Linked DNA regions of Homo sapiens: region 1 is linked to region 2. A link means that fine-mapping ties the variant in region 2 to the expression of a gene that starts in the linked region. Tissue or cell type: lung. Region 2 holds a variant in brackets; the other region holds the start of a gene. All regions are shown on one strand. Distances are between the middles of the regions.

Region 1 (8,127 bases), 170 kb after region 2:
AAACGAAACATAATCATACACCCATGTTGGTCACCATTGAAACTTCCTTAGGGCACAACTCATTTCCTTAAAAATTGTTAAAGGATCAAGCATTTATCCTGCCTTTTCTTTATGAACTGTATTTCAAGGTAAACAAACAGCTGATGAGACAATGCCTTTTTTAATAGGTGGATTCCAGGTAATAAATGCAGAGAGAAATGATAAAAACAGAAAATCGCCACTGTGCAAGTACTAGTGAAGTAATGGACCTGGGCAATTATCACTAGGTGCTAAAGCCGTCATGTGAAAGGTTGATGAGGAATCAGGGTGATACTATTTTCGCCAACTTGTCAATCTTAGAACAGTAGAATATTCAGACATTATGATGTAATGAAATAGGAAGTAAACTGAACCTGAATCTAATCAAGCCACTAGATCAGAGCAGTCCAGTATATATACATACATATACAAGCTACAAGCTGCATATGTAATTTAAAATTTTCTAATAACCACATTTAAAAAGGTAAAAAGAAACTGTTGAAATAAATTTTAATATCTTTCATTGAACCCAATATATGCAAAATACTATCATTTCAATTATAACCAAATTAAAATTAAGGAGATATTTTACAATTTTCATATTAACGTTTCCAATTCTGGTGTGAATTTTACACTCACCGAACATCTCAATTCTGACAAGTCATATTTTAAGTGCTCAACAGCTACGTGAGGATAGTGGCTATTATGTCACAAAATGCAGCTCTAGGGATGAGGACAGTTTACAGAAGATACTTGAGGATACAGGAGCAAGTTAAATGGCAGTTTAAGAAAGCAAATCCAGGATGTGGGAAACTCCACAGAATAGATGACCTGGTTTCTCCCTTCACTCATCCCTCCAAAATAGAAATCAATGGCAGAAAGAAAAAAGAGGGAGGCTGTTGTAGCATAAAATACTTAAGGGACATAACAATAAAAACAGTGTAGGGTTTTGTTTGAATCCTGATTCAACTACCAATGATCAAAAAACATCCGAGACAACTGGGGACATCTCACTGCAGATTCAGTATTTAACGATATTAAGGAATTATTGTTAGTTTTGTTGGATGACATAAATACTGAAATATTTAGGGAGAAAAAACAACTTGCATTTGATTAAAAAAAAAAGATGTAGGAATAGACTGATCATGACTTGATATTGGTGAAGCTGAGTTATGAGTACATGAAGCTCTTCATACTGTTTTATATATAAAATACATAGTTTGACAATTCTCATAAAGTTTTTTTAAAAAGTACTCACTGGCTGTGCACAGTGGCTCACATCTGGAATCCCAACACTTTCAGAGGCCAAGGTGGGAGGACTGCTTGAGGCCAGGAGTTTGAAACCAGCCTGGGCAACATACTATGAGACACCCGTCTCTACAAAACATTTTTAAAATTAGCCCGATATGGTGGTGTGTACCTGTACTTCTAGCTATTCAGGAGGCTGAGGTGGGAGGAATGCTTGAGGCCAGGAGTTCGAGGTTACCATAAGCTGCTAAGCACCAGTGCACTCCAGCCTGGGTGAGAAAATGAGACCCCATCTCTAAAAGGTAAAGAAACTATTTTTTTAAAAAGCATCCACTTGATCTAGAATACTAAATAAAGGGCAAGTTCCTCTGAAGTTCCATGATTTGCCCTCCTATGTTACACAGATCAGATGAGAATCACACTATGCATAATGTTAGTATGGCCACTGCAATCAGGCAAATAGGATTTTTTCTCTTTTTTTTTTTGAGATGGAGTCAAGCTCTGTCGCCCAGGCTGGAGTGCAGTGGCACAGTCTCGGCTCACTGCAACCTCCACCTCCCAGGTTCAAGCCATTCTCTTGTCTCAGCCTCCCAACTAGCTGGGATTACAGGCGCCTGCCACCAGGCATGGCTAAATTTTGTATTTTTAGTAGAGATGGGGTTTCGCCATGTTGGTGAAGCTGGTCTCGAACTCTTGACCTCAGGTGATCTGCCAGCCTCCGCCTCCCAAAGTGGGATTAGAGGCGTGAGCCACCACGCCCGGCCAGGATTTTTTTCTTAAAAATATCTAGAAGACCTTGCTAGAAGTGTTGGTAGTAAACAAAACCCTTTAAGCTACTAACGTTCTCCTGTGTTTTCTTATTTCCTTTCTCTAATATTCATTTCCTAATATAATGAAATGTAAATTAGATTTTTATTTCCTCTTTTCACTTTGGAAGGCTGTCAAACAGCTTACCCCAACTAACCTGCAAATAAAACTCATTTTATCCTAGCAAATTTGAGGTAAAGTATATACTAACATGGTAAATTATACATGTATTGTCTTCATAATATCATAGTTGCCCATTCAAACACTCTAGCAACTATTACTTCCTGTCTTGAAAGAAATAAAAATAATTGGTCCTCCTTTCTTATTTTCTCTGAAAAGCTTCCCCAAACTCTCCCAATCCAACTTAATGCGAGTAGACTATTTTTCCACTTTGTTCCACTCATTTCGCACTCCTGATAGAATTTTCTCTTATCCCTCTAATCTCTTATTTAGGCTTATGTACCCTCTCCAGAAGTTCTGTGTTGTGTCACTTACTTCCCCACAGAGATCTCTATCTCAAGGAGACCAATTCAAATGATATTCAAATATATACCTCCAGTCCTGGTCTCTCTCCAAAACCCTATTAAAACTACCCAGTGGACATTTTCCTACAGACATACTAGCATCCCTTCACATTGTCTCAAGCCAAATTAATGTTATCACTATATCAAAACCTCTGAACGTCCCTGTTTTTTTCACCCTGACATGCAAATTAAACATCTCTTTTGACTTCCTTTCCCTTGTTTTCCTTAATTAATGAAGGCCTGTCCATTTTTTCCTTAACATGTTCGTACCTTTCCATTCCTCTGCCACTGCCTGAGTTGAGGTTCTTTTCATCTTTACAACCAGATAACTAACATAATTTCCTAATTTACTTTCTCACTGTCTATCTTCTTTCCCTATACTATTATAGTACTCTGCCAACCACTGCCAAATTAATTTTCCTAAACTATCATTCTACTTATCCAATCACCTTGTTCAACAGGGTTTTAAAAATGAAATCAAAACTCCTCTGCTTGATATTCAAGGCCCCTCATGTTCTCAAATCAATGTATATTCCCAGTCTTATCTCTTGTAGTCCCTAAATGAAACAGTTCCTCTTGCTCAATTTATGCTCCTAAAAACAAACAAACTTGGCACCATTAACAACACAATTTCCTTAACTCAGAATATTCTCTTGTATATAAATAAGCCTTCCTGAAAGTCAGAAATAGGATCTCCCTTTCTTGAACTTTTATAACACTTAATTGTATATATCATTCATTTTAAGTTAACGACCTCCTCACCTATACTGTAACTCTTTAATGGGTACCTGTTCTCTTTCCCTACACCGAAAATTCCTTGAGAGCAAAATCATGTCTAATTTAATTTCAAGCATCTATTGGGTATCTGGCCCCACAATGCCAAGAGTATATTTTGTTGATTGTTAATTAATCATCTTACTTTATTTAATACAAGTAATAGCTTTTCCTTGTTCTACTATAAACAGATCTGTACACTTTCTGGTGGCTGTATGCACCAGTCTAAACATATGGGTAGGGTCCAGTAATTTTTAAATTTTTTCTCAATAAACTCACGATAGCTACCATTTATTAGTGATAGCTAGCTAACCACTGTTAGGCACTTTACACGTGTATCTCATTGAATCCTCATATCCACCAGTGGTAGGCACTATTATCTCCATTTTACGGAAGAGAAAACTACTACATCTTGGAGATTAAATGTCTCTCCCTTCTCATGTTATTATCTGCCCTTTCCCCTCCAAATCAATTCATATCATTTTTTCTAAACCTTTTCACCTTTTACTCAACTAATCATTCGTTTTGTTTATTAACGACTATGTGCCAGGTGTTGTGCTGATGCAGGAGACAACCGCGAAGATGGGGACAGAATCAGTAACATCGACGTAAGGGAATTGAAGCAGAAGATCACGCTGCCTGCAGACACCAGGAAACGCCAAGACCCCCCTTCCACGAACCAACATTCTTCCACCCTCTCCAACTTTTTTCTGGAACCCCTTCACTTCCAACGCCACTCAATGTACACTTCACTTTCTCGTGCTCTTCCTAAGAGAGTAGTGTTTTCTTCCTCCCCACCGAGAAAAAAAATAAAAGCAACAACTGGAACTTCTTCCTTACCCTGCCTTGTCTGCAGACCCTGGAGGCCCCTTCCATTTCCCCTTGTCCTTTTCCTTGTCTTTTTTGGTTCCCGCCGCAGTGGTCGAGTCGCCCTCGAACACGCTGAACAGCTCATCTCCGAATGCGTCCGCCATTTTTGGGAGCAGTGAGAGCAAATCTCCCTCCTACCCACGATGCCCCGCGACCGAAGACAGTGACGTCTCGTGAAGGCTCAACAGTGGCCCGCAGGAGACAAAAGTAGTCGAGTCGCGCAGCCGACAAAAATGTTCCCCTGACTTTTTTTTTTTTTCCTGCTTTTCTTTCCTTTCCTTTCCGACCTAAAGTGGATAAGCTGCTCAGTGGATAAAGAGCGAGGGCGGCGCGTGGCGCCTGGCGTGTGGCAGGCAGCTGGCGACTCAAGGAGGCGGAGCCTGCTGAATTCGACCAATTGCGAGGCAGCGGTCGCCCCGGCCCGAGAAGCCCGGATCGAAGCGCAGGGTGGCAGCCCCGGAGCCGGGGAATGTGAAGAGCTCTCGGCTGTGCAGTGGTACCGTCGGGGCCTGGGCCGCGAAGGATCTTCTGCCACAGCTGCAACATGGGCGGCAAGAACAAGAAACACAAGGCTCCAGCGGCCGCGGTGGTCCGGGCCGCCGTGTCTGCTTCCAGAGCCAAATCTGCCGAGGCTGGAATTGCCGGGGAGGCCCAAAGCAAGAAGCCAGTGTCCAGGCCGGCCACCGCTGCCGCTGCCGCTGCCGGCTCCAGGGAGCCCCGTGTCAAGCAAGGTACGAGAGGTCCCCCAGCCCCTGGCTGTCTGCCCTGAGACCTTGCTGCTTGTCCTGAGGAAAGGGCCTTAGAACCCGGGAGGAGCTTCGGGCCCAACATTTCTATTTCCCAACACTCGAGCTGCTACCTCCCCATGGGGTGGCCTTGTTTTAGATTAAAAAAGTCTAAGCTCTTTGGGCCTCCAAAATTCTGACAGTAGCCCTGTTGCAGCCTGGCATTTCTCTTTTAACTCACACTTCTCCCCCTTCTAAAAACAAAATAATTGCATTAGCTCCTGTTTCAGCAGGAATTCATCCTGAGCACCATCTCAGCTAGCTAGGCTAACGCAAAGACGAGTACTGAGTGGAGTTCCTGACCTCCTGGTGCCAGCCAGCCCCATTTTCTGTCAGTTTTTCATATCATTTTCAGCAACAATCTAGTGTCTCCATGCGTTCTGGAAAAATCAATACTTAATAAAAATTACAGGACTTACACACTGGTTACACACTGGTTACGTGTAATCTATTGTAAAATTGTCTGCCCTCGTTTCTGCCGCCATGCAGTTTTGCTTACTGTACAAATTGATTTGACAACTCAACTTATAGATGGCCGATTCCTGCTGCAGATGAGCAGGCCACATATTACGGTTGAGCTCAAAAGATGAACAATTACATTCTGTTGTGTTCTTCTCGGGTTGTTTGCTTGTACTTATTGGAGTATTCAAGAAATATTTGCTGAGCATTTATGTGTATATATGCAAATATTTAGTATGTGTCTGATAAGATGTGAGGAATGTGATGAGCAAAAAGAGACATCACCTCATGGAGCTTGCCAGTCTAATGTCAGAGATAGGTATTAACTAATAGGTAACGCACACAGACATATTTATAGCCTTATAATAGATAAGTGCCACAAAGAAAAGCCAGGGAAGACAGTTTAACAGGGTAATCTAATTTTTCTCGGGATGAGCAGGTATCATGGATGGTGTCTGGAAATGTAACAGTTAAGCTGAGATGAGGAGAATGAAAAAGGAGTTAACTCTGTGAAGCATGGCAGAAATTAGTATTCCAGGCGGGCGTAATGAACATCATGTGTAAAAAGTTTGAGTCAGGAAAGAGCTTGGGGCTCTTGAGGAATTCACAGAACATAAAGCATCGCCAAAGGATGAAATGAGATGAGACTGAAAAAGTAGGCAGGTACCAGACCTTTACCTAGAAGGTGGAAACAGTTCTTTGCCCTGCGATTTATTGTAGTGTTAGCTACAGAGTTAGCATACTTGTAATTACAAATACATAGAATTTCTCCCTGACAACTATGGCAGTTTTATTCTGTGGATCAGCCTCTTTTTTACTTTTCCTTTGTCTTTTACTGACATTCCTCTGAATTTGAACCGATAGTCATTTGTTGTATTCTTTGAATTCCCTTTCCTCCAGCCCCAAACTGTGACCCTTTCTCAAGGTGTCAATCCTTGACAGTATAGTTCACTCCTAAAGCCCTTCTAGGAGTGTTCATCTATTTCCATTACTTCTATCTTTTCCTTTGTAGATGGCCTCTCTTCCAAGCTCAAGTTGGCAATTTATACATTTTGCTGGATTCTCTGACCCTATTTTTTGCAAGCATCTCAAATTTAACAGGGCTAGTACTAAACCACTCTTCTTTCCCCAAACTAACTTTTTCTTCGACTTCCTTGTTTCTGTTTTTCCATATTTCACTTTGCATTTGTGTAGTTCACATCCTAGTCTTGGTACCTGTGAATTCCTGGAGTAGCAACGAAGTCTTTTAATAGGGCTCCACAGCTGTGCTCATTTTGCTTCCTCCAGTTGGTCTTGCATATCAACATCAGACTGATCTTCCAGAAATGCTGCTTTGGTCGTAACACTTCCTATTTTCTTCCATGGCATCCTCACTGACTTTGCAATAAAATCCAAATCATTTAGCTAGCTTCTAAAACCCTCTTTCTAACCTTTTAATAATTCCTCTATTCAACTATAGCAAGTCTGGTGTGTTTTCATTTCTCCAAATGGAGCTCTTAGCTTTCTCCTTCCTCGTATTTATTCTTGCCATGTTTTTCTTCATGGAGTGCAATCTGTCCCTAACATCATCTACCAAAACCTTAAAATACCCATTTCAGATAACAACTTCCTTTTGAATTCTTCCTGCTATTCACAACTGACGTATCATAGTTGTTTAAATCATTCTTTTTGATAGTTAGTTCTTGCCTTATGATATGTAAAGAATTATATGTTTTATATATCCAACAAAATTACAGGAGGTAGGAACAGTTTTATGGATATGTGTTAACATTTCCCCAGTATCTACTCTAGTGCTGTGCATATTGTCATGAAGAAAATTACTTGGATAACTGGTAAGGAAAGTTCAAAGGAATTATTAAGACCAAGAAATCAAGAGAAAAAAACTAGAGGTTATCTACTAAATTTGCACATAACTTTTGGGTTTATTTTAGGGTGCTTTTAATATATAGTATAACGTACAATAAACCTATTTTGGAGAAAAAAGTGGAAAAATGCTCAACTCTGTGTAGTTCCTAATGTAGATGTAATGGTTCTACTCTACTTCCGTCCCTCCTTATCTTTCCAATTTGACGGCACAGCTGGTCAAAATTGTCCTCTATCGTAGAGGTTCAGAATCACCAAATGGCTTGCACAACAAGTAATACCAGTCTTGTTTTTTTTTTAATTTCATTTGCTCATGAAAGAATTTCTGAAGAGGCCGAATAGGGAGGAGGGTGGGGAGAGGTTCAGTATTAAATAGGATGGTCAGGGAAGGAAGGCATCATATAAGAAGGTGGCTAGGCGCAGTGGCTCACGCTTGTAATCCCAGCACTTTGGGAGGCCGAGGCAGGCGGATCACGAGGTCAGGAGATTGAGACCACGGTGAAACCCCGTCTCTACTAAAAATATAAAAAATTAGCTGGGCATAGTGGCGAGCGCCTGTAGTCCCAGCTACTCGGAGAGGCTGAGGCAGGAGAATGGCGTGAACCCGGGAGGCGGAGCTTGCAGTGAGCTGAGATTGTGCCACTGCACTCCAGCCTGGGTGACAGCAAGACTCGGTCTCAAAAAAAAAAAAAAAAAAAAAAGTGACATTTGAGCAAGCAAAGGAGGCAGGTAAAGTAGTTACACAGATGACTGGGTAAAGAGTCTCCTGGGGAGAGGGA
Region 2 (8,000 bases):
TTTTACATAGCATTGTGGAAGCTTAACTGTTATGTGTGTGGATTTTGTCTGTTTCTAAGAAAGTGCCAAAAGAAAAAAAAAGATCAAAATAACTATGTTTTGAGATTTCACAGTAAATCAAACTTCACTCCTTGTCCTGTGGCTCAGCAGTCTACGTAGCTGACTAGGCTTTTTAGAAGTGATTGGTTGTCCGTTAACCTGAGTGGATCTACACATACCCATGTAACTCCTTGAATGTGGAAAGTTTGTCTTTTGTGTTGCAGCATGCTGTAATTCAATTCTGACACTAACCACCTGGAGTTAGCATGAGACTCCACGGATTTAAGGTCATTGTCCCCAATAAGACTGCTTTCACTGTAGTTTTCAGGTGCAAATTTGAAGTTCCCCAGGCTGCAACTCTGGGGGTTCCTGTGACTCTGTCAGGTTCAGTAATAGGCTAAAACAACTCATAGAGCTCAGGAAATCATTTTACTTATGATTATAGTTTTATTATAAAGAATCAGAATGAGCCAAATTAAGATACACAGTCAAAGTCTCAGGGTGGGGGGCAGCCTGAATGTAGAACTTTTCTGTCCTCTCCCAATGTCATCAAGATGTGTCACTTTTCTGGCACATTGATATGTTCACCAACCAGGCAGCTCCTCCAACCTTCAGTGTCCATTGTTTTTATTAGAGTTTTATTATGTAGTCATGATTGATTGAATCATTGGCCAAGCAATTGAACTTGATCTCTAGTTCCCCTCACCTACCTGGAGGTTGAGCTGGTTTAAAGCCCTGTCCCCCTAATCACATGGTTAGTGTGACCAGCCCCCATCCTGAGTCATTCATTAGCATAAACCCAGGTGTGAACCAAGGGGCTCAAGAATAACAAAGACCCTCCTATTACTCAGGAAATTGTAAGGTTTTCGAGTCTCTCTCCCAGGGACAAAGGCCACATTCTTTGTTATAGACCCCAGTCTCTGTATTTTTTACTCTATAGCCTTGGTACCTTGAAAGTGTTTAAAGCACTCAGTTGTTGGTTTGATACAATTTAATATTTTTTAAAAAAGTTTTCGTTGTTTCCTTTGAATCTGCCAACCCAAGTTTACTTAGGAGTTGGAAACTTTCCATCTAATATGGGTTTCTATTGTTGAAAAAAATTATTCTGATACTTGTTAAAATGGTAAGGAAAACTTTACTCAAGACTATTGCACCTAGTGCAATAGCGGAGGGCTCAACTCTAACTACAACAAGGAGAAGGGGGTGGATTTATGGGTGAGGGGAATCAGTGGATGGAAAATCACGAAGAGGAGACATCAAAGGTAGGAGATTCTTGTTAAGGCAGGCCAAAGATTTATGTATCAAAGGTGGGAGATGAGGAATTTAATCATATATCAAGGATGAGGGGCTTCTTGCTTAGCTGACTTAGCAGGACTTTTGCTAAGACTGGGCATGTCCTGTCCTTGCACACCATGCAAGGACAGGCTGACATGAAAGGCCAAGGTTGAGGCCTAGTTGAGAAGAGGGTTCACAGCTGGTTAACTAATGTTTAGTCAACTAAAGAGCCTTTGTCACTGTCTATTAATGATGAACTTTATCTTAAGCGTGCATTGCATAGTGAGTTAGTAGCTCATCGTAGAAGAACATCTATGTAAACATATCTTAATATGCAAAAAACCTTTGTTCTAGGTTAATTCAGAAATATGCATTATTTAAAATCCCATTATATCTCCATTTAATAGACCAAGTATTGGTCTATTAAAATTCCTTTACTCTGGGATGTGGATTGTTATAGTTTTTGGTTGGAGATTTTTGTAAAGTCATTCTAAGTGTAAAAAATACAGAAATGGAAATAGCCTCTCAACCCAAAATTTCTAATAATGTAGTTTTTTTTTTTTTTTTTTGAGACAGTCTCCCTTTGTCACCCAGGCTAGAGTGCAGTGGTATGATATTGGCTCACTGCAACCTCTGCCTCCTGGGTTTAAGCAATTCTTGTGCCTCAGCTTCCCGAGTAGCTGGGATTACAGGCATGTGCCACCATGCCTGGCTAATTTTTGTATTTTTAATAGAGACGGAGTTTCACTACATTGGCCAGGCTGGTCTTGAACTCCTGACCTCATGTGATCTGCCCACCTCAGCCTCCCCAAAGTTCTGGGATTACAGGCATGAGCCGCTGCACCTAGCCTCGAATAATGTACTTTGAATTATCCTTTTCAACTGATGTTGTTTGTGTGTTAGCATAATGAAAAATGTCTAGCTTTTGTATACCATTAAGCACTTGTATTTTTCTGGCATTGATTAATCAGATTTTCACTATAAATATTACTAGTGTAATAATATATTAAGTAGACAATATTCACAATTTTAAAGGATAAAATACGACTTTTTAAGAAATATTAAGAAATATTTTTTATTAATTTTGGTAGTCTAAGTGCTCCTAAGTTAATTTTAAAAAATCACTTTTACTCCCTTTGTTAACACCTGGGGGAAGTAACACAGGATACATTTTTTGGGTTGAATTGTTGTGGAATACCACATTTGAAAAGTTTGGGATTTGATAATGTTTTGGAAGATGAGGGAGATTATTTACTATATATATGTGGATTTTCTGAAGTTCTTTGTTTTTGGTACATTGTTTGAAAAAATAATATTTTTTTAGAGAAGCTGCCCACAAAGCAGGTAACTGAGGTATAATTTTTATTATTTTGAATAGCTTACTTAAATGGTAATAAGAAATTGCTAGTCTTGAGGAAGAAAGAATGAGTGGGTTAATAAGTTTATTTTTATAAAGTGTAAAGTACTATATAAGTAAAGTGTTCTTATGGCGAAGTGGCTTTAGAATTTTACCCTGCATAGCAGAGGAGATTGGAGTTGGTTAGGTTTTATGGCAAGGCACATCTCTCTTGCTGTCCTTTTCCTGTACTGGTTCAGGAAGCTGGTATCCAAACAGTCTATTGCTCACATTTGTTTGTCATTTCTCCCTTGTTTTCATGGGGACATAGGCGCTGTGCTGCCATTTCTTATTTTCACCTCTATAGGCAGTAAGACAATAATCTTCACTAGAGTAGGAATGGTCTGTATTGCTCACCATTGTAACCTTAGTGGCATGTAATAGGTGTTTAATAACTTGAGGTAGAAAATTTTATGAAAAACTACAAAATGTTAAATAGAATAAGATTGTTGTTTATGTTTGATAATGACTACTACCATGAAAATTCAGCTTAACTCTGTGGAAACTGACCATATTTCCAAGTCATCTCTTGCTATCAGATACCTCATTAAAACAGTTTTTCGGGGGTGAGGGGGGACAAAGGAGACTTACATTGAATGCGTATCCTGACTGGAGATGTGTGTGTGTGTGTGTGTGTGTCTGTGTGTGTATATACTATATACTATATATATATGTATGAGATATGTATATCTCCAAAGGGGGAAATATAAATATATAAAATTTAAATATAATACTTAAATATAATATTTAAATATAAATATATAATTATATTTATATTTCCCCCTTTGGATGTATCTTATATAAATAAATATATATTTATAGATCTTATAAAAATAAAAATAAAAAT[A/T]TATATATGTATTTCCCTCTTTGGAGATATCTTAAAATATGGAGGAAACGTCTATTAGAATTGTAGAAATATAGTACTGTGGAGATTGGTTTCTTAGGTTGGAAAAAAGTTTTATTTTCTTGTTTACTTATTCTCATGTGTAGCTGCATTTCCTATCCACAGCATTGTGGAAAGTACTGATTCTCAATTCTTATGAGCAATTTTATTAACAAAATAGTAATAGCTCCATTATTTGACAGTCTGACCTATATGTCTGGGTTCTTCAGGCTTCTAGCCTACATCCACATTCTTCTCTACTTGTTCAGGCATTAAGAGAAGAATGTATTTCCTGAAATATTTCACAAGTGGACACAGTTCTTTCTATTCCGTGGGTCTTTTGGTCTGCCTATGGGGTCTTTTTTTCTTCCAAACTATTGAGGTAGTACTTGATCTCACAGTAAATCCCAAGGCACCTGCCATCTGTGTGTCAGGATTTCTCAGACTGTTGCCAGCTGCTGTCATCCCCAAGGCAGTGTATCCCTTAGTGATTTGCTACTGTGGTCTCTAAAGTTGCATGCCACTCTCTCTTGGGCATCTGGTATGTTTTAGATTCGTACAATGGAATACTGTTCAGCAACAAAAAGGAACAATATATCCATGGTGCTATATAGGTGATCCTTAAAACATTATTTTGTGAAGGCAGTTTTGTAATTTTCGCTAATATTAGAAGAGTTCCCTTCACATGTAAAAGAGTTTTTAACCAGTTTCCCAGATTTGCTGGATACCCCAGCACCAATATTTCTAAATAAAACTGTTAGTATTTGTATTATGGTTCCAAGATCCTGAGCATTTGTGCAAGAGGAAGTTAAAGAAGATGTGGTGTGACCATGTTCTTATGTTGTCCTTTCCTGTCTCTAATAAAGGACGGCGAAGTGTTCTTGTGGTATTTGGTTTGTGGAAGCAGTAAGTTACCATATCACATACTCTGTCTTGAACCATTATAAATATTCACTGGTAAAATATAGAAAGTTGTGTTTATTTATAGCTGAGTATGAGTTTACTATGCAGAGAACCTGAGTCATGGGCTGACTAGTGAATGTATCAAAAAGCGGAATGTGGGAATGTAAAAGGGTGCAACAACTTTGGAAAACAGTTTGGCAATTTCTTAAAAAGTTAAGCATCAACTTACCATATGACCTAGCAATCCCACTTGTAGGTATCTACCCATTAGAAATGAAAACATATCTACAAAAATACTTGTATATGAATGTTCATAGGATTAATCATAATAGCACAAAACTGGAAGCAATCTAAATGTCCATTAACTGGTGAGTGGGTAAACCAAATGTGGTATATACATACAACTGAATACTATTCATTAATAAAAAGGAACAAAATGCATGCTGTAACACAGATGAACCTCGAAAACATTATGCTGAGTGATAAAAGCCACATATAAAATACTACATATTGTATAATTCCATTTATATGAAATGTCTAGAAAAGGCAAATTTGTGTAGAGACAGATAGCAGATGAGTGGTTGCCTGGGTTTCTTGGTGGAAGCAGGGATTAAATGCAAATGGGCTCAAGGGAATTTGGGGGGTAATGAAAATATTCTAAAACTAGATTGTGGTGATGTTGCATAGCTATATAAATTTACCAAAACCATTGAATTATATGTATACTTAGAATGGATGAATGTTATGGTATGTAAATTATACCTCAATTTAAAAAAAGGGAGCATGAAAATGAATTTTGCCAGCTCAAGTAATAAGAAACAGTGTTTGACAAGGGTAGTCATTTGAGAAATGATGAAAGAGATTTAGAGATATAATCTTTCAGGTGAAAGGAAAAGGGTTTTGACTTGATTTGATAAACGAAGAAAGGGAACTCTTTCACTTTTGCCTTAATCTTCAGTAAATGTCAAAGTTAACATCAAGTATCTATTTAAATGTTTGCATTTCTCCACACTTTTGTACACTGTGTCTGGTGAAGTAAGTTGATGGTGTGCACTAACCCTTTTGGAATAGTTTATCAAGGATTTAATGTTTGTATCTTTTAATTCCACATACATATATATCTTAAGGAAATAACTAGAAATGCAAACAAGAATTTGTATTCAGAAATGTTCACTATAGCATCACATAGGGTAATCAAAAAATTAAAAATAACCTACATGCTCTCAAAGTAGGAGGAATGGTTAAATTATAGTTGATTTTGCTTTGTCTCTCTTGGTTTCAAGGAGTAGAAATTCTAACTAGATTAAGTAAAATTGGGCTTTGTTGAAAAGGGTAAAAGGTGCTCTAATAACCCCAAACAGCAAGATCACTGAGGCCTTTTGGCAGTGGGGAGCCAGAGCTACTTTCCCATTTCACCCGGTTCAGGGACCAGGCTAGTCACTGCTTCTTCCTCTGTAGACCTGCTTTGTTCTCAGCTTCTTCTTCAGCCAGTCTTCCTTGTACATGGCTCAGTGTTGTTTGCCACCTTGGACTTACTCAGTTTTTGTTAAAATTCACATATTTCCAGAACAGGAATCTGAAAGAGCTGTTCTTTTTGAGCCTTAGGTGGGTCAGTGAACAACCTGTGGTTTGGTCTTTTTCTTCATCCCCTTCCAGGGGTCTGTATTTAGGTTTAGATAGTTAGTGAAAATGAAATGGCACTGGGTAATGACATTGATTCAATACATCTTGGCTAGGCACACTGGCTCACGCCTATAATCCCAGCACTTTGGGAGACTAAGGCAGGTGGATCACCTGAGGTCAGGGGTTTGAGACTAGCCTGGCCAACATGGTGAAACCCCATCTCTACTAATAATACAAAAAAACTAGCTGGGCATGGTAGTGCACACCTGTAATCTCAGCTACTCTGGAGGCTGAGGCAGGAGAATCGCTTGAACCCGGAAGGTGGAGGTTGCAGTGAGCCGAGATTGCACCATTGCACTCCAGCCTGGGCAGCAACAGTGAAACTCTGTCTCAAAAAAAAAAAAAAAAAATCTCATAGGCTTATACGAGGAATGGCAAATATTGGCCATTATTTATTATCAATTTAAAAATATTTCTAAGGCCTTTGGTGGTGGCAGCCTCTTTTCTTGATTCTCTCAACAGAATAGTGTACATTTGTGGTAGATTCATGCTTATTTTCTTATATTTCCTTACCAAAACTTGAAGTCAGGATATTACCCCTTCTTATTAAAACCTCTTTTACTAAGACTGGCAATTGAAATCCCATTGGATGCCATATTGGGCACTGTGGACCAATCTCCACCTCCTGTATGCCCCCTCTTTCTGATGTGGCCACGGTGAGGTCACTGTCTCCTGACCTGCCCTTACCCCACTCATGTCTGCCTTAGTGGATCTTCTTCCTCTCCTCATCTTCCTCTGCTGTTGCTCTGTGCCTCATCCTCCACTTCTTTTCTCTCTGTATACATCCTGTACAGTGTTTTGTACCTCTGTGACTTTAGAGACCCTTTCTATCCCCAAATCTCTGTCTCTGTCCTAGACCCCTTCTGCTGAGATGGAGTCTCTCATAACTACTGGCTTATCGAATATCACACTCAGAGATATCACCAACTCTCCTTTTCTTTCGAACATTCAGAATTTTTTGTACCTCAGTTTATTCTCTGCTATAATTATGTACTGTGCCTTATTCAATTTGTATTCCTGGTAGCACCTAGCGGAATTCCTTGCACAGTGGGTTTACTTAGTATTTGCCCACATGAATATTTTTATTTTTTAAAATGGGCTATTATCCTTTGTATGGGGTTTTATTTTGTTCCCCTACTATCCTGAAAAATACCCACAAACTTTTTTTCTAAATCTAAGAATAGTTTCTAACATGGTTTTTGTGGTCAGGGGGGAACAAAACCCCTTAATATTAATGGACATACATGTTAATAGCATTTCTAAATACATTTGGGCATGTGTATTAGGGCCTATATGTTTTCTCTGAGAATAAGGACACACAGCCTAGTGAGTTTTGGACTCGAATCCTATTATATGTGAATTTTCTTTCTTTCTTTCTTTCTTTTTTTTTTTTTAAGACAGAGTGTCACTCTGTCACCCAGGCTGGAGTGCCATGGCACAATCTCGGCTCACTGCAACCTCTACCTCCTGGGTTCAAGTGATTCTCCTGCCTCAGCCTCCTAAGTAGCCGGGACTACAGGTGCATGCCACCACACCTGTGAATTTAATTTCTATACTAAATATACTATTCCAAAAGAAAGAAATGTTTATTGGAAAATGCAACCAATTCAGAAATATGCTTTGTAGACAGTGAAAGTTTCAATTATTTTGTATAGACTAAATTAGATTATAGAGGTTCTTTGGCTGGGCACTATGGCTCATGCCTGTAATCTCAACACTTTGGGAGGCTGAGCTGGGTGGATTACTTGAGGTCAGGAGTTTGAGACCAGCCTGGCCAACATGGCAGAACCCTTCTCTATTAAAAATACAAAAATTAGCTGG

What was found. PIP is the estimated chance that this variant, and not a neighbour inherited with it, causes the effect.
Region 1: MTREX starts here. The variant in region 2 is fine-mapped to the expression of MTREX in lung (TOPMed, PIP 0.95).

What each region holds. Positions count from the first base shown.
Region 1 is chr5:55,304,232-55,312,358 of GRCh38, reverse strand. It overlaps MTREX (Mtr4 exosome RNA helicase), which reads right to left and starts at 4,370. Exons shown (of 27, transcript NM_015360.5): 1 at 4,212-4,370. The coding sequence starts at 4,345. It overlaps DHX29 (DExH-box helicase 29), which reads left to right and starts at 4,665. Exons shown (of 27, transcript NM_019030.4): 1 at 4,665-4,972. The coding sequence starts at 4,786. LOC124900979 (a long non-coding RNA gene) reads left to right here. Exons shown (of 2, transcript XR_007058774.1): 2 at 3,922-4,210. RefSeq lists enhancers at 4,117-4,596, 4,737-4,996.
Region 2 is chr5:55,477,553-55,485,552 of GRCh38, reverse strand. The region is part of intron 1 of PLPP1 (phospholipid phosphatase 1); the gene reads left to right. Among named protein-coding and RNA genes, the nearest start is that of MIR5687, 27 kb to the left of the region's middle. The variant A/T (reference allele first, on the strand shown) is at 3,558.